3 linked regions of the Homo sapiens genome follow. The protein of the gene in region 3 interacts with the protein of the main gene of each other region in a pairwise test. Each region holds a gene or a part of one and is shown on either strand. Other genes may lie near its edges.

Region 1 (4,704 bases), on a different chromosome or scaffold from region 3:
CCAGGGGGCATCTTGATGAGGACACTCATTAGCCAGGAAGGTGTCAAGCTCTGCTTTCAAAGGAAGGGCAACTTACGTCCATTTTTCTTAAGGAAGGGTCTTAACCACTGAGGCTTACATAAATTTAGAGCTACTTATTTCCCCCATTGAAAAGGAAGTGGTAATATGACAGGAGGAATTTATTTTAGAACTACCTGACATGGTTGTGAGCCACACACGTGACTGCACCTGCAGTCTCTTCTTTCCTTGGAGAACTCCCAAAAGAAGAGGACAGAGATTTTGCCTAGGCTGGGGTGGGCACATGCCTACATGAAACAGGGACAAGTCTAGAGTAACTCTAGAAGGGTCCTCAAGAGGCCCACCTCCCTTTCAGGGCAGAAATTCAGCTGCTGGTCTCAGGGAAAAGCCTGTCTTGTTGTGTGGGGCATCCCCAAACACACCACATTTTAAGCAGAAATAAAAAATATTTGCTGGCAAAGTGGGGGTCAGAGAAGAGATGAGAGCACATCTCTAAAAAAGAAAGGCACAGCACCCAGGTTCTAGTTCTTGACTTTAATGCCCTTGGAGTGTACTGAGGCTCAATACACCAAAGCACTCACAGACAGGTACATGAACTCACACAGGAAGTGTTATAGTGTGTACATAAACCCAACACCATACAGAAGGAAGACGACGGACCCAGGTGACCTCCCACACTCGAGGTGACTGCCTGTTCCCATACTCACTGTTTGTTCCCACCTCCCTCAACCCCTGCCAACCCCCATCCTTCCCCACTCAGTATGTATATACACAGATATGATTCTTTCAGAATTCCAAAAAGTGCCTCTCCCACCCCAGTTCCCAACACTACAGCTTTGGATGAAAAAAGCCTCTCTCTTTTAAGGATCATGAGACAGGTACCACCTTCACGCAAGAGCCCCAGCAAAATAGTACCCAAGAAAGCTTAATAATGTATATTGGAATCAAATATGGATAGAACATATGCAGAAGGACAATATTTGAAATATTACTAGGATCAAAACGCTCAGCATCAGTAGTTTTTGTTTTGTTATTGCTGTTTGCTTTAACCTGTTCAAGAGCTGGTTTAGACCAAGACCACACATGGATGCTCACACCGCCTGTGTCTTATAAATGTCACTTCCTATTCCTCCAGCAAGCAGCCCAGAACAGGAAGATTATATCACCTGATAAGCCTTAGGCACAAGGCTCAGACAGCTCCCAGAATATCCTAAGCCCCAGGAAAGAAGAACAGAAACTTCCAGAGTACAGCTGACTGCTTTCTGCATGGTAAGCACTGGGCAGCCTGGTGAACAAGGCAGAGGTAAAATAAGGAAGGTGATGATTCCTTCCATTTATTTAGAGTGTTACGCTAAGAATTCCTCTCCTGGAGTGGGATGCATTTCAGTGTGGTTTTGCTTCAGTCTTTTTTTGTTGCTATAACATTAGCTTTTTTATTTTTAAGGAATTTTGTTATGGCGAGCATTGCACCATTGGTCCCATCTCCTGAAACTTTCACTTTGCTTTGACTCACTGATAACTACTGGCCCGTCTCAAGGCAAGATGAATCCAGTCCCTTGTCAAGTGAGAGGGATTTACTGACATTATGCACAACAATTCTATAAAGATGCACTTCCTTATGATCAGGGAGAAGCTTTCATCCTTTGGAGCCTTCCTTCCAGACCCAACCCTTCTTCTGTTCTGGGCCTGGCCATTTAGAGTTGAAAAGGGATCAAATGGGGAAAAGTCACTTCCACAGGGATAACCCCTTTATCTGGAGGCCGTTACCACAATCCACCACATCTAATTGCACTTTTCAGCCTGGCCTTGGTTTCTCATTAGAGAATGGCGAAACTAGGCCACTGAATTCCTTCACTCCATTTAGAAAGAGCTCTCAGCTTGCTGCCCAGTGTCACCTCTCTGCCTGTTCTACTGGCCCAGAGCCTTGTGTCCTACAGTGGCACAGAATACATTACTGTGAGGATCACAAAGGGAGTCAGAGAAACAGGGATTTCTCCAGCGAGAGAGAGGAACGGTGTTCTTACCCAGCATCCCTGTAATCCTAAGCAAGCCTTCAGGACCTGTTTTTGAGCAAACTTGCATTTGAGCAAACAAGTCTCTCAATGGCTTGCATGTATGGACTCTAAATAACCAAGCCCTGCCATGCTCCATGGGAGAAGGGGGAAGCAGAAGGGGTCAAGGCCACATTACTGAAAGCAATGGGCTTAATGAACTGCTCTCTGTTCACACAGACTTTTTCAATAGTCTGCCTCTCTGTCAAAAAATGAACACATATTAGGCAGTAGGTAACACCAATCAGAAGAACCAAAATGAAAGCCTTTTCTCTTAGAACAATACAAGAGCCATGTTTTGGGGCTAACCTCCAAGCAGGGACATCAGCTCCAGAAAAGAGACTATCCCTTTGTGTACGAGAACAATAGAGAGAGCGCATATCTCAGAACGTGAATGACTATCCTTTCCTCTTAGATCTCAGTATCCACCTCTTTTCCACCTCTAAAAGAGTACAACAGGAGTGCAAAACCACGCCCTGGAATCTTTGTTTACACATAGGGAACAGGAGATCACTGCCGTCCAGCCCCACGGAGGAATTCAGCCAAAGTCCCAGGGCTTGGTCTTCTCTTCCTCATATGAACACAGACTTCAGCTCCCCTTATACCCATCTTGTCTATCTGGTCCTGTAAGTCTGATACCAGTGAGGCTGTCCTCCCCAATTTATTTATTTATTTATTTATTTTTACGATGGTGTTGCCCAGGCTGGAGCACAGTGGCTAGCCACAGGCACGATCATAGTATACTACAGTCTTAATCTCCTGGGCTCAAGTGATCCTCCTGCCTCAGCCTCCAGAGTAGCTGGTACTACAGGTGTGTGCTCGAGTGGCCTGGACTACAGGCGTGTGCCCAAGTAGCTGGGACTACAGACATGTTCCTGGCTCGCATCAATTCTTTACACATTAAAAAAAAAAATCTCCCTTTACCCAGGAAGAGACAGGTACAATCATGATTAGAGAGAGACACCCTTAATGCAGCATGGAAATGTTACATTGTGATCAATGGTGCTACACAGTTCTTCCTTTAGGAGATGCATGTCCAGACCCTGACTAGTTGGCCTAGGCTGTAGACAGAGCAAGAAGGAAATGCAGTAGTAACAGATCCTTGGGGATCTTTTTCAATTTCTGAAATAGAGGAGTAAGTAAACCAAAATATACAGGAGTGAGGAGTAAAACAAAATATAAAGAAGTGAGTAAAACAAAAATAGAGGAGTGAGGAGTAAAACAAAAGGGAAGTTTTGTCTTCCTACGGCTCCTAGGATAGCTGTGTGTCTCACCCAGCCCTTCCTTTACCTTCTCAGAAGAGAGGCTCTCCTAGAAGGAGAATGTTACCAGGACAGAGGAACAGGGTTTAAAGAGAGGGGGTCCCCTTCCAAAGAGGTTCACCACAAACTGGATTCTAACACATGAGATAGCAGCCAAGGAGGTGTTCTGAGCCTCTAAAAAGGATGTTACATGTCAAAGATAACAGAAGATCTAGGCATCTTGCCTGCTTGACTTGGGGAATCTTCAAAAGAAGCCTCTGAAATTTGCATTCCAGCCCTGTGAGAAGATAACCCTGCAAGCAAGGAAGGTGGTGGAAGATAAGAGAAGCCGCGGCCCTAAGACAGGGCTGTAAACATTGTGGTTTTCTAAGGCCAACTGGGTGCATAGCTTTGGCAGCTATGGTTAAATCTCCAAAAGGTGGTGAAGAACATGTTCCGGAAGGAAAAGAAAAGTCTTTCCACATTTTGGGAATGTGGGCAACTATTCTTGGAGGAGAAGGGGTGCAGTGGGAGAGAAGATGCTCTTTCTTCTTCAGCCAGGGGCTATGGGGTGGCTGGTCAGGTAAATCCCCCATCATGTTCCGTGTTCACACCAATATACTGAGCACAAGGGAGGGACGCTTGAACAGGGTTGAGGAAGTGATTAGGCCTACATCGATTTGGTAACGTGGCTCTAAAATGGGCAGAAACTCTCTTGCAAGGTCAAGAAGGTGACAAAACTTCTCGGGACTTCCTGGTCAAGCCCTAGCTATCAGCCTCAAGGAAAGACTACCATGCCTTGAGGAAAGGCCAGGTGAGCGCTGGCTGGAGTGCCTGCAGGCCGCAAGCCCTGAGCCCAACCCTGAGGTGCAGTCAGGGAGATTGGAGCTACACCTCTGTCCCCTGGGAGCTGTGCCTCAGGATGCTGTTCTCACCTCGGCAGATTCTGGGGCAGTCAGCAGCCCCTTCAGGGATCTTACTCCCAGAGCCACCAAGCAAGGTGGACATCCTCCCTGATGGGACTCTCGCCTACCGGGGCTACTCACCACCATGTGATCTTGAACTCATAGATGGGGCGCTTGCAGTAGTAGTGGTTCACGAGGTGCTTGTCACACACCCCGATGCACTGGTGGTCCACGGTGAGACCCTGGGCCGAGAGGTCCGTGACCAGGCAGTGCAGCAGGTCATAAACATCAGCCACAGCCTCCCAGGGCCCAAAAGACACATCCACTTCACAGTGGTGCTCAAAAAGCTGCCCGTCACTCTCACTCCGCTCAAATCGCAGGGAGTTGAGGAGCGGACACTCATAGGGGGTGATGGGCATCTCCTCCTTGAAGACACAGACCTTGAGCTTGGCAAAGCGGGCCTTCCGCTGGACCGCACGCAGCCGGGCG
Region 2 (7,037 bases), on a different chromosome or scaffold from region 3:
TTGACCACATAGTAAAGCACTCCTCAGCAAATGTAAAAGAACAGAAATTATAACAAACTGTCTCTCAGACCACAGTGAAATCAAACTAGAACTCAGGATTAAGAAACTCACTCAAAACCGCTCAACTACATGGAAACTGAACAACCTGCTCCTGAATGACTACTGGGTACATAACGAAATGAAGGCAGAAATAAAGATGTTCTTTGAAACCAATGAGAACAAAGACACAACATACCAGAATCTCTGGGACACATTCAAAGCAGTGTGTAGAGGGAAATTTATAGCACTAAATGCCCACAAGAGAAAGCAGGAAAGATCTTAAATTGACACCCTAACATCACAATTAAAAGAACTAGAGAAGCAAGAGCAAATACATTCAAAAGGTAGCAGAATGCAAGAAATAACTAAGATCAGAGCAGAACTGAAGGAAATAGAGACACAAAAAACCCTTCAAAAAATCAATGAATCCAGGAGCTGGTTTTTTGAAAAGAACAACAAAATTGATAGACCACTAGCAAGACTAATAAAGAAGAAAAGAGAGAAGAATCAAATAGACACAATAAAAAATGATAAAGGGGATATCACCACTGATCCCACAGAAATACAAACTACCATCAGAGAATACTATAAACACCTCTACGCAAATAAACTAGAAAATCTAGAAGAAATGGACAAATTCCTCGACACATACACCCTCCCATGTCTAAAATGATTTTCTGATTTTGTAAAAATCAAAATAAACAAAGTAAGTATTCAGTCAATGAAAGAGTGGAAAGGATCTAAAATATTCCTTAAATCCTGAAAGTAGGAAAAAGAAGGAAATAAAAGTGAAAATTAAGAAGAAACAGAAATAAACTGCAGAAGGGATAAACAAACCAAAAACACGTTCTTTGAAACGACCAAATGTAAATTAGTACAGCCATTATAGAAAAACAGTAGAAAAGTTCCTAAAAAAATTAAAAATAGAACTACTATATAATCCAGCAATGCCACTGCTGGGTATGTATCCAAAAGAAAGGATATCAATATACCGAGGAAATATCTATGCTCTCATGTTTATCACAGCATTATTCACAATAACCAAAATATGAAATCAACCTAAATGCCCATCAGTGGATTAATGTATAAAGGAAATGTGGCATATATACACGATGTTATATTATTCAGCCATAAAAAAATGAAATCCTGTCATCTGCAGAAACATGGATGGAACTGGAGGATATTATGTTAAGTGAAATAAGATTATTTTCCCTCATACATGGGAGCTGAAAGGTGGATTTCATAAAGATAGAGAGTAGAATGGTGATTATCAGTGGCTCAGAAAGAAAGGCTCAGGTCAATGGAGAGGGGCTGGTTAATAGGTACAAAAACACAGTTAGAAGGAATAAGATTTAGTTTGTGATAGGACAGTAGGGAAATTAGAGTTAATAATAATTTATTGTATATCTCAAAATAGCTAAAAAAAATATTTGGAATGTTCCCAACACAAAGAAAAGATGAGCATTTGAGGTGATGAATATCGCAATTACCCTGATTTGATCATTACACATTGTATACAGGTATCAAAATATCACATGTACCTTAAAAATATGTATAATGATTATATATACATAAAAAAGATCAATACTCCCTGATAAGCCTGATTAAAAGATTAAAGTGAGAAAATAAAAATATATGAAATATTATGAACCCAAAAGAAGAGAGATAACTACAATTATGGAAGATATGATAATTAGAAAATATTATGTGTAGATATATAGCATTAAATTAAAAATCCAGAGGAAATGAACAATTTCCCAGAAAAATAGAAATTATCAAAAGTAATGTACAAAGAGGCAGAAATGTACAGAATCTAAAGAAAACTCTACCATTTTCCTGAAGCATACAGAACAAGATTTTGATGAAAGGAGAGCAGAGCCTTGTCTTAAATGTGAAAACTTAATAACAATGCCAAGCCGTTACATATTAAAAAATTTAATATAATGCCAATCAGAATCCAAATGGGCTTTCTATGCCAGTTTTTACGGCAGTGTTTTTAAACCTAGAATAAATAAATTTGATATTCATATCAAAGAATAAACATCTAAGAACTGCTAAGAAGCAATGATAAGAGTGAATAAGAATTGATTGTACCAGGCATTAAATCTTTCTCAAAATCTACTGTAATTGAAACAGCATAGTCTTGATACAAGAAATGACAAACAGAAGAGTGGAACAGAATAGAAAGTTTAAAAACACATCTAAGTATATATGCAGAGTTACTATATATGAAAAATGGCATTTAAACTGTGTGGAAAATAAATGATTTATTTAATAAATGATGCAGATGCAACTGACTATCCACCTTGAAGAAAAAAATGAGGTCCCCTTTCTCACATCATATAAAAATGTAAATTCCGGATGGATTACTGTTCTAAAAATAAACCAAAAATATATTTTTAATCAGGAAATTTTATAGTTTGGATGGCAAGAGATCTTAAGCAAGATGAAACTAGGGGCCAAAAAAGGAATAATAGATACATTTTTCAAAGTAAAAATTTAAATATTTATAGAAGTAGGCAATATAAACAAACTCAAAAGACAAAAAACAGACTGGTGAAAACGTGAAATTCGTGACTGACAAAGTGTCACATCAACAATATAGAGTCCTTCCAAATTTATGTTAAAAGAATGAGTAAAGGGTATGAGGCAATTCACAAAAGAAATGAAAATAGCCATTAAGCATATGAAAAAAAAAAGGTTCCAACACTTTTTTTCAATTTACTAGTTGAGAAATGGCAAACTGAAACAAATAGATACTATCCAGTGCTGGTGAGGCTATGCGGAAGTGGGTACTCATAAAATTATGCTAGGAGTATAGATTCTACAAATCTTTCAGAATTTAATATGCAAGTATGTATTAAAACTGTTCACATCCTAACATTCAGTCATTCCACTTTAGGGTACAGATCCTACAGGAATAAAAGCATCAGTAAGTAACAATCAGATACGTACATGGATATTTATTGCAGCAATATCTGTAGTGGGAAATAAAGCTAAATATAAAATGAATGTCTAGCAAAAAACGAACAGTCAGCCCTCTGTAACCATGGGTTCCACATCTGGATTCAATCAACTGTGGATCAAAAATATGCAGAAAAAAGCGGCTGGTTGCTTCTTTACTGAACACATATGGATTTTTGCCTTGTTTTTATTCCCTAAACAATACAGTATAACAATTATTTACATAGCATTTACATTGTGTTAGGTATTATAAATAATCTAGAAATGATTGAAAGTATATGGAGGATGTACATAGGTTATATGTAAATACTATATCATTTTATATAAGGGATTTGAGCATCCATGGATTTTGATATGCACGGGAGTCCTGGAACCAATATCCCGTGCATACCAAGAGATGACTGTGGTTATTACATAATATTATGGAATGTTATACAGCTGTTTATAAGAAAAGTGTGATGAATTTATTGATGTGCCCATTCGACTAGACTGTAGTCCTCACTAATGTAGGTGTTGCCATGAAGGTATTTTACAGATATAATCAAAGCCCCTGATACGGTTTGGCTCTGTGTCCCCACCCAAATCTCATGTGGAATGGTAATCCCCATGTGTTGGGGGAGGGGCCTAGTGGGAGGTGATTGGATCATGGGGGGAATTTCTCCCATGCTGTTCTCATGATAGTGGGTGAGTTCTCACGAGATCTGATGGTTTAAAAGTATGTGGCACTTCCCTCTTGCTCTCTCTCTCTCCTGCCACTATGTGAAGAAGATGCTTGCTTCCCCTTTGCCTTCTACTATGATTCTAAATTTCCTGAGGCCTCCCAGTGATGCTTCCTGTTAAGCCTGCAGAACTGTGAGTCAATTAAACCTCTTTTCTTCATAAATTACCCAGTCTCAGGTATTTATAGCACTGTGAACATGGGCTAATACAGGCCCTAATCAGTTGACTTTATATAAGGGACAATATCCTAGATAATCTGGATGGACCTGACTGAATCTGTTGCAAGACCTTAAAAGTAGAGCCTAGGTCTCACACAGAAAGGGCAGAAATTCTACCTGTGCACCACAGCTTTAGCCCATGTCTGTGCCACTTCATCCTTCTCATGAGCTTCTCTTCCTGACTGCCTGTAGATGACAGCTTTGGCCTATGTCCATGGGTTTGAGCCTGCCTGTGATCCTCCATTTCTGACTGCCTGCTCTATGGAATTCTGAGCCACTTAGTCAACATTCACAATCACATAAGCCAATTCCTTGTAATGCAATTTTCAGCAGTGGTATGATATATCTCCTACAGGTTATGCCTCTTTGGTTGAACCCTAACTGATACAAGGGGTTATAGTTAGATTCTATATTATTTATCTGGGGAGTTACTTATGATAAATTAAGTTTAAAAAAGCAACCTACAAGGTAATATATATAATATAATTTTTGTAAATATAAAAGTATTATGTTTGTATATGTTTATATGGACATGAGATAAGTATGGAAAGATGCATACTGCACTGTTAACACTGGTTATTTCATTCAGTATGGAAGTGACAGAGAAGGGGAAGGAATGCTAAGTTTTCTTTATATATTTCCATATTTGTTTAAATGGTTATAATGGTCATGCATTAATTTTATAATTAAAAAGTAAAAGTTTAAAAAAGCTATGATAAAACTATATGACCCTCATAAAATAATGATTAAAAATATGAAGTGATCTGATAGAAATGCTAATGATATAATGATGAGTGAAAATGAGGATACAAAATTATATCTATCCACTATAGAGAGGCAGGTATGGGGAGAGAAAGAAAAAAGATTCAGTCACCTTGATTTTTCTAATTAGACACATAAAAAAGGCTGGAAATATATATCAAAATGTTTATGAAAGTTATTACTGAGTATGTTCATGTGTTTTTTTTTTTTCTTGTACTTTTCTGTTGCTTTTTCCCTAAATTTCCTACAATGGAAGTGATTTACTGTTATTATCAAACCAAAAAAAAAAAACCTCAACATTTTTAAAGATGAACATATGCCTGTTCAGAAAGTAATTTCTAGAAGCTTTTCTATTAGAAGCAGATAAAGTCACAGGTTTATTAGGGCATTGTGTGGGAGACATTGTGTTAGAGCCAATGGGAATGGCAGGGGCCTTCTAATTGATTCAGGGTCTGAACACTAAGACCATTCCTTTAATAACTCTAACAGCCTAGGCAAGGTCAGTGGCTGCTGCTGCTTGCTATTGAGAGAAGTAGCCAGCAACATTTATATGCCACTCCACATCATGTCCCAATGGAGTGTCCACATACTGAAAGCAGTCTGATTCCAATGAGACTCAAAGTGAGTTATTAATTTGCACTCTACCCAAGTTCTGAGGAGAAGACTGGAGTTAGATTTGTCTTTCTGACCATCCTTTCTTACCTCTGGATAATTTCAATCGCCCACATGGAAGGATAAGAGAACCCTTTTGCACCAGGATTCAATGAGTAGGCCCATTTTTCTAGAGACAATTTCCATAAACTTGAGCTTTCAGGCCTTCTAAAGTACAATTTCACTCCCATAAGCAATAGGGCAAAGACAGAAACTGTATGTCTTCTCAGGGAATTAACAAGTCTGGTTGCTTGGTATTTTTTATGACAGAAAGGCAGGACCATGAGCAAGAGACCAGACAGTACTTTATAAGTCACAAAGCTATAGCCAATGGCGTCTAAATCCCACAGTTGGGAAGCAACATGAAAAATATCTCTACTATCTATATCCCCACTGGAAAAGAGAAACAACTTATTGTAAGGCAAAAAAGTATGTTTCAGTGTGATTTGAAATCATGAAAATGGTCATGGTTTTAAGTCCTGTTATATTTTCTATAATTTACTTTAAATACTTCCACACAGAAAGTGTGAAGTGTATGTGCATATTATTTGAATCTACAGTCTAGGGGGATTTAGTTAACATCTGAAGTATCCTAATCAGGAGTACAAACTATATACCTAATGACAGAGAGCTCAGGCTTTATGAAGATTACAGAACAGGTTGTATAACTGATTTTTGTTTATTTGCTAATAAATGTATGTTTGGGAGAATCAAGCCTGAGGCTGGCTTTCAGTGTGATATTCTTAGCTAGTAGGGGAGGACAACCTATAGTTCAAACCTACCACTGACTAATGGAAGCTATTGGTACTTACCAAAAAGAACCTAATAATAAGGAACCACCAAAGTAGCTTAAGTCAGTTTGCAACAGAAATCTTCCCTCTGACTCCAAGAAAATGGAAACCAATTCAAACCTCCTATGTTCTTCATAGCCATGTTCTTCTTTCTACTCTCAGGTCACTTACCAATTTTTTCATCTTCCTGTACCATTTTCCTCTCTTCTCTGAAAGCCCTGAGCCAGCGTATTTTTTCCTCCAGCTTCTTGGCAAAGAACAGATGTATCTCCTCAGTCTCCTTGTTGTGAAGCTTAAAGGCATTCTTCATGCTGACATTGAAGTCATCATCTCTGCCATCCTCAATGTCAACTACCTCATATTTATCCATGTCAATGCGGCCTTTGTAGTACAGGATGTCTCTCCGGATTAGGTCCTAGATGGGAAGGAAGAGGTTTCTTGAAGGTATGTGCACGGCGAGTACTAGAAGAGTTGGCACAGGGGCACAGCAGAATGCTAACACTGTCACCGTTTTGAAGTACCAATGGGGGTTGGTTTGTTCTAAATTTGGCCAGGTTATACTAGTAGTCTGACACTGACAGGTTGGTTAACTAGATGCCCAAAGAAAAAGCCTCTGTCTCACCTCGAAAGATCATTTCAGACACCAGAATCAATCCTTGGACGTGTGTGCAAGTCTGCTGATGGGAGGTAGGAAACAGTAAGCCACATAAACACGGCTAGCAAGGGCTTCTCCTTTTCGAAAACATCAGCAAGCCCACTAGAGGTATGAAATGAGCTGGCTGGTTGCCTGGAGTGTGTTCAAATATCTGTGCAGGCCAGTGAGACCTGAACATCAGAGGGGGACTGAGTAGTAAGAGTAGCTAGGAGGCCACAGACTGCTGGCAAAGGATTA
Region 3 (7,037 bases):
CTGAGGAAGGGAAGAGCCACACTACATGAAAGCAAAAGATGGAAGAAACTACACAGAAAAGGAATTACATACAGAGGAGCCCACAGATAGAGGATTCCTTAACATTTAACATAGTAAGACATTGTAGAGGTGGAGGAGGAAGAAGGAATTTACAAATCTGTCCTTTGGCTCATGATACATTGACAAAATGATTCATTTGAAATGGCTGCACAATAGTCCAGAAGCCAAAGCTGTACTAGTAAGTTGAAAAGTACGTTGAAAACTGATACTCCAACTGATTCGTTAGAAAATATACACGAGAGAAAAGCAAACCATTTAAAATTTTTTAAACAATTACAGTAAAGTCCTCAGCAGCAGAAGACTAGATATGTTAAGGCCAGCCAGTGATAGACTGAAGGAGATTAAGGGTGTGACCAAGAGAAAAGACATCAACACTACAGAATCTGAAACATGTAATAAATAATACAATGAAAAAGAACACTACAGAGCAAAAATAGCACAGTTGTAAGAAAATGAACTTATGTACACACAAGGATATCCACCTCTAAAAGTGGGAATATTTTAGAAAGGAAAAAAAAAGCCCATAATGCATGGAGGTTGACATCAAATTGAATATAAAAATGCAACTCTGAGCATAGCAAAGGACCAAATTTGGATCCAGGTTTGTAGCAAAAAGTACATCAAAAGAAAGAACATGATAGGAAGTACTGAGAACTTTTAATTCCTAGTAATAACTTATCTGGACACTTTATTGCCAATAACTATACTTTACCAGATATTTCCCAGCATGCACTATTTCCATGTTTCCATTAAGCTAGATTTCCTAAAACTGTGGCTTCTCTACTTTGATCACTTGGCATACTAAATGAAAACACTTCTCTAGCCATATTTTCAACACTGGAAGCTGTGCCTTACCTTTCTTCCTTGCTTTAACAGCTTCTTCCCACAGTCTCAGTGTTTCTACTTGCTTCCCTGGCCAGCTTGTCACATGTTGTTGTTGTTGTTGTTGCTGCTGCTGCTGCTGCTGCTGCTGCTGCTGCTGCTGCTTTTGGTTACTGGTCTCTTCACTCATGCATGCTATTACAAAGACAAACCAAAAACACTGTATCTACCTGTAAAACTGTTGCCGTTTTTTTTCAAAATTGACTTCTCATGCTTCTGTGATCTTAACCATTTAACCTGATAGCTCTTAGTAAGTGCATCTTTTTTGCTGCTGTGTCTATATTGGTCAAAATAAACAAGCACTAAAAAGTCTAGAGAACTAGCAAAAATCAATATAAAAGAGAAAAGGACTCTTTGCTATAAAAAAAAAACCATCAAAAAAAAAAAAAGCAAGTGTCTTTAAAAATGGAAGTTTGATATTATTAATATAGGACTAATCAACATTCAACAAAATTTTTTATTTGATCACAATAATGTACACTAAAAGTGAATGTTTATAGGCCGGGTGCAGTGGCTCATGCCTGTAATCCTAGCACTTTGGGAGGCCGAGGCAGGTGGACTGTCTGGGCTCAGGAGTTCGAGACCAGCCTGGGCAACACGGTGAAACGCCGTCTCTATGAAAATACAAAAAAAGTAGCAAAGGTAATCGGGCATGGCAGTGTGCACCTGTAATCCCAGTTACTTGGGAGGCTGAGGCAGGAGAATCGCTTGAACCCAGGAGGCGGAGGTTGCAGTGAGCCGAGATCGTGCCATTGCACTTCAGCCTGGGCAACAGTGTGAAGACTCCGTCTCAAAAAAAAAAAAAAAAAAAAACAAAAAAAACAGAAGTGAATGCTTATAAAGTACAACATACCAGTGTACTTACAAAGAAGTGTACTTACAAACCCAGTGTACTTACAAAGAAGTAAAAATGGATAGATTAACACACATTAAGCTTTCTTCCCCATTCTCTTGTGGCCACCTATTTTTTTGAGAATTTGATGTTTCTACTGCATAAAGTACATATATAATAGAATAAAGGATTAGGAAAATGCCTTCTTCTAGTGGTTAGGGCAATCTTAAAAGAAAAAGCCTGGGTAAATGCAAGTATTCTATCTTCAACTCTGAATTTAAGGCAAGCAAAGCATTTAAACCTTCAAGTGGATATGATATCTCATTTCTCTACAGATTTGGGTTTGAAAAGCAAGCTTATTAATACTGCTTTCACCTTAAAGGTTATTATTAGCTTATCAATGCTGTTTGCATACATGAAAGTAAAGCATAGTTCTGACATTAATATACTCTGTCCATTGTTGCCTGTTTGCACATGTTGGCAATAGGAGGAAACACGTAAGGTGAATATTAATACCTTTGATACAATATGAAAACATGCATATTTCACCCATCTGAAATATAAAAGAAAGAAAATCTGAAGCACCACCTACTTTTACTGATGCCTTGTTTACATGTATTACAGTTGATACTTTGGCTCTGCCCATGAGTCTTTAAGTGGCTGGTGATGTATGCTGCACTCAGGAGCTTCCCACAGATGTTACATGATACCTTGCCTTCATGGCGCACCATGTGTGTCCGCAGTCTGTCTTTGGTGGCAAAGGCAGCAGTGCACGTCTGCATGAGGGAGGAAAACTTTTTTTAAATATAGACTATCCTGTTCTACTCATTTTGAAGTACGTTATATTCTGTGCATTACCCTATCCACATCAGCAAGCTGACAACTAGTTGAATTTTAATTGCATATGTTACCTAGAATCATAATCATAATAAAACTCTTGATAAATTTTAGACTCTTCCATTTTGAAGGAAGAAAATACATCAACACAGAGTAGCACAAAAAATGTAAGCTTTAGGGTAAGTTAAACCTGGGTTTAAGTTGAGCTCCACAATTTACTAAATGGTGTAATGTTGAACAAGTTGGTTAACCTATCTGAAAGCTTCTTCATCTGTAAAATGGGGATAACATCTCTCACAAAATTACTGGTGGATTAAGAAAAGCCTGGTATACACAGCAGGCACTCACTCAATGACACTAGCTTCCTTCCTCCAATTAGATCTTTCTTAGCATTCAAATCATTTACTTAATAAAATCAGTCATTAACAAACTTAACTGAAAGGTGTACTAAAAGACTTCCAGCAACAAACTAAAATTACCAATGCCTAAAACAGTCATTTGATTTAGCAAAATTCTTAATGTTTTCGTTATTATAATTGATGTCAAATAAAATCATTAACTGGAATAGATTTTTAAACAACTAGAAAGTGTTCCAATTTGGTAATAACAAACAAAAATCTAGTAAGTGGTAACATTTGGGAGAAAAATTCATTATTTTCTCCTATTACAGTTAAAACAACTTCAATAATCAACCCAGAAATTAAAGCCCTTTATTCTTTTATTCATTTCAAATACACAACCACCTTTGCAAGACTGTAACTTTTTTTTCCTAACAAAAAATACTATTGCCCAAAGAAAGGGAAATATAGCTTAAAAAAAACAACACGCTTAAATTTTTAAATGATCTTGCTTTACAGAAACAGAAGCTGTCAGTTATATTTTATAAAACTAGAAGTCAAATGGGCCACATTTACTCAGGTCAGTGATTTTAAGACTATTCAAGAATGGTGAGATTCAACTGGCTCAGACCTTCTGGATAATGTGCATTAAGTGCTACACTAAGGATAAGTCATTTTAACTCTTACTTGGCATTTGAAGGGTCTTTCTGTTGAATGGACATGTTTTACATGACAGCTTAAGTGGTCAGGCCTGTGAAAAAGAGAGTTTCAACAGAAGATATAATCGAACACATAGAGAAATGCTACTTATGTGATGCTCACATGCTTGGCAGATTGGGAAGGGGTGCATTTTAGGGAAAGCTAGCAGAATTACCAACCTCCCTCCCCCGGTGCAAGTCTCCTTCCCTCTCTTACCATGAACAAAGTCTTAGGCCTCTACCTGTTAATTTTCTCTCCTAGTCAACATCAAATCATATTAGGTCTTGATTCTTTACAATTACAAAATACCCGAAGTTTTAGTCTTAACACTTGCCAGAAACAGCTACCACTATATTAACTCTAAAAGCTTTTATAAATGAAAATTAGTGAAATGTTGGTGCTCTCAGAAAAATGAAAAAACATTCTAAAAGTTTAATTAAGAGTATCCAAGGTCATCCCAACTTCCAAGAAATGTTACTTTAATTTGCCCAGTGAGCCTCATGTCTAGTCCCCCAACTGAACTGAAAACTGGTGGTTTTGCAGTGATAAGTATCCATGTGCCAAATGAAAGCCTGAGTCCACCGAGGCACTTGTTAAGTGAAAAAAACAGGTTAATCACTATGTCACCACTTGTCAATCACACCAAACTGAGGTTAGACCTGGAGGTGTTAATACTTATCTATCACCAATCTCCTCTAATAACACAGGTCTGCCCACATCTGTTCTCACATAAACATTCTAGATCACATGGAGACAAAACTGAAGTACACTGATACCATAATGAAGCAAAGCAAAGCAAAGCAAAATGCAGTACCTTGAGAAGCCTTTCCCACAAACACTGCAAGTATAGGGTTTGGTGATGCCTCCTTCATGAGACCTCACATGGTAAGTCATCCGGTCCTTCCTCTTGAAGCGCTGATTACAAATAGGACACTCAAAGGGTTTCTCATCTGAATGGGAGAGCTTGTGTCGATTGAGATGGTACACATCTCGGAAGGCCTTCCCACACATCTCACAAGCATGGTTCTTCTTGACAGGCTTACTGGGTTTCTTGACAGACTGGGTCACTGGCATAGCTGTGGTGCTGGCACTGCTACTGGGGTTGGTGCCCGAGGAAGATGTAGTGACTGTTGACAAGATGCCTGCAATGGTCGAGACCAACGAAGTTCGGCTGCTGTCCCCAGCGATGGTAGAGATAAGGGGAACCACCGTGGTGGGGGTTTTCTTTGGCCGGGACACCAACTTGATCCCTGTGTGGCAGGATTCGTGGCGCCTCAGGTGATAGCTGTCCCTGAAAGCTTTACTGCAGTAAGTGCACACAAATGAAGTTTTGGGTTTTTCTTTTTTAATCCCAATGGCATCCTTTAATGTTTCTGGTGCACCCTGAGGTTTCTGAGTTATTGGTATTGGAAGCAATGGTTTCTGATCAGGGGGCTCCACGGCAGAGCTCAGGAGGGGCAGCAAGCTGTTCTGTGCTGCCTGCTGTTGGTGATGGGAAGCTTCATGGGCCTAAAACCAAACATTTACACTTCAGAAACTCAGCCTCTCACAATGGCCTTCGAAATTCAACATGCTCCAGACAATAGAGACCAGAAGAAACAGTCAAAGAACCTATAAGCTACTCTGCAGTGGTAATCCAGCAACCACCTAGTTACTCTAAGAGCTCACAATACAAAGCATTGAAAAATCACTGTGCAGACACAAAACTTTTGCAACTAAGTTGCTGACAGTGATCTTGCTTTTAAACAGCTGACTAAACTACACACTATCCTGGTTCATAAGGGACAGACCAGCTGATGAAATCAGTTTGCATTAGTCTGTCAGCGCTGAAACCAAGTTTAAATAACTTACTTAAAAAAACCACTCCAGATTTAAGTATTTAATAGTACCTTACTGCAGCAATACACACATACACACTCACATACATGCAATAACACAATCATCTATTTGTCTATTATCCAGAAGAAAAGCATCATGTCTTTCTATCAGAAAACTCAGATTGAGGAAGGGGCTGTTGCTAAGTGATGAAAGAAATCTAGTTCTCTAAATACATTTGCTAGTCGTTAACGTTAAGTTTTCACTTGACTCTACTAAAAGGTTTGGTTGAAACAAAATCTGCTATGAAGCAACCTGGAAGGCATCTGTGAAGGCAGCCCATAGCAAACACCTGTCAGTTGTTTCTCAGGTCATTTAATTGTATACTGAAGTCTGCATCTTTCAGCAACACTATCTGTTCAAATCCCAAACTCTCAAAGACAGACTAATGAGAAAAACAAACTATAAACACTTAAATTCCTTTCATATTCATCTTCTTCCAGCAGTTGTAGGTTTCAATAAAGTATTAGACATTTGCTCTTATGATGTGCTTCTCCACTCCCAAAACTGGAGGCTGCACACTGGAAATTCTTTTAGCCGCAATGAAACCAAAATTTCACCATGGATCAGGTTCTTGACATTTATGAGTAGTTACTCTCTTGGTTCTGATACTTTCAAAATTCTCCATACTGATAAACATTTAGGAAATGATGGAAAAAATTCCTGAAATAGTTCTTCCTAATACGTTGTTCTTTACCAACATTATTTTTGAAACTCTTGACAGTGAGCCCAAGCCCCTATGCTTGAGTTTTGTAATCCTAATAAGATGCATGCACTCAAGAGGAGTTTCAAATATTTTAAGCATACAATGTCCTACTAGGGGCCCATCCCATCATTTTAGACACTTTAGACGGTTACTTACCCTTCTTACTCTATAACCACAAGTCCCACAGCTAACTTAAGGACAAAAAAACAAAGAGAAACACACACACACTCACAGCTCCTCCTCTGATGGGTAAGAACATCTACCACACATTGCTTCTATGTTTACTTGATGGCAGCATAACAGTTAAGCCTGGAACTAGTCTCCCCCAAACGATTAGGAGGTGTGGTATCCAGAGTTCTCAGTTTCAATTTAATAATTTTGATGTAATCACCCTTTGAGTCCTGGAAGCATTCTCAGAAATTATGTGGTTACTTATGAGTCTCTTTCTGGACTTAACTGCTCCTAGCAAATTACAGTCCGCTTTTAATCTAATTTGTGAAGCTCCTGTAAATGTAAGGGTCTATCTACCCAGGTGACATCAGCAGAAACTTTACAGAATTTGGACTCCAGTTGTAACCCCTTTTCCAACCTGGCTGTAGGATACTCGTTTCCATACAGTATACAAATAGTTAATAGCTGAAGATAGCTGAAGATATACAATTTCAAAGGCTAACAGATCAGATAATAGGGAATGCAGATCTTCTGGACAAAGTTCAGACTTATAGCATTTAGAGGCATTTTTCAACTCTAAACAACCATTAGTACGATGGAGTACTAAAAGCACTTACTGCCATTTTACCAATTCAGA

Evidence for each region. Proteins that work in one complex are often made in the same cells at the same time.
Region 1: the proteins of VEZF1 (region 3) and KCTD7 interact in binary tests that used the Homo sapiens proteins (3 or more experiments, as listed by UniProt).
Region 2: the proteins of VEZF1 (region 3) and ARHGEF9 interact in binary tests that used the Homo sapiens proteins (3 or more experiments, as listed by UniProt).

The regions. Positions count from the first base shown.
Region 1 is NC_000007.14:66,638,881-66,643,584, reverse strand, and holds the end of KCTD7 (BTB/POZ domain-containing protein KCTD7), read right to left. Parts: coding exon 4,353-4,704; 3' UTR 3,192-4,352; coding exon of another isoform or gene 3,191-3,191; 3' UTR 538-3,190; downstream 1-537. UniProt on the Homo sapiens protein: May be involved in the control of excitability of cortical neurons.
Region 2 is NC_000023.11:63,649,178-63,656,214, forward strand, and holds part of ARHGEF9 (rho guanine nucleotide exchange factor 9), read right to left. Parts: intron 6,561-7,037; coding exon 6,317-6,560; intron 1-6,316. UniProt on the Homo sapiens protein: Acts as a guanine nucleotide exchange factor (GEF) for CDC42. Promotes formation of GPHN clusters.
Region 3 is NC_000017.11:57,978,237-57,985,273, forward strand, and holds part of VEZF1 (vascular endothelial zinc finger 1), read right to left. Parts: exon of another isoform or gene 7,024-7,037; coding exon of another isoform or gene 7,018-7,023; intron 5,158-7,017; coding exon 4,463-5,157; intron 3,701-4,462; coding exon 3,637-3,700; intron 2,569-3,636; coding exon of another isoform or gene 2,551-2,568; coding exon 2,367-2,550; intron 1,078-2,366; coding exon 916-1,077; intron 1-915. UniProt on the Homo sapiens protein: Possible transcription factor. Specifically binds to the CT/GC-rich region of the interleukin-3 promoter and mediates tax transactivation of IL-3.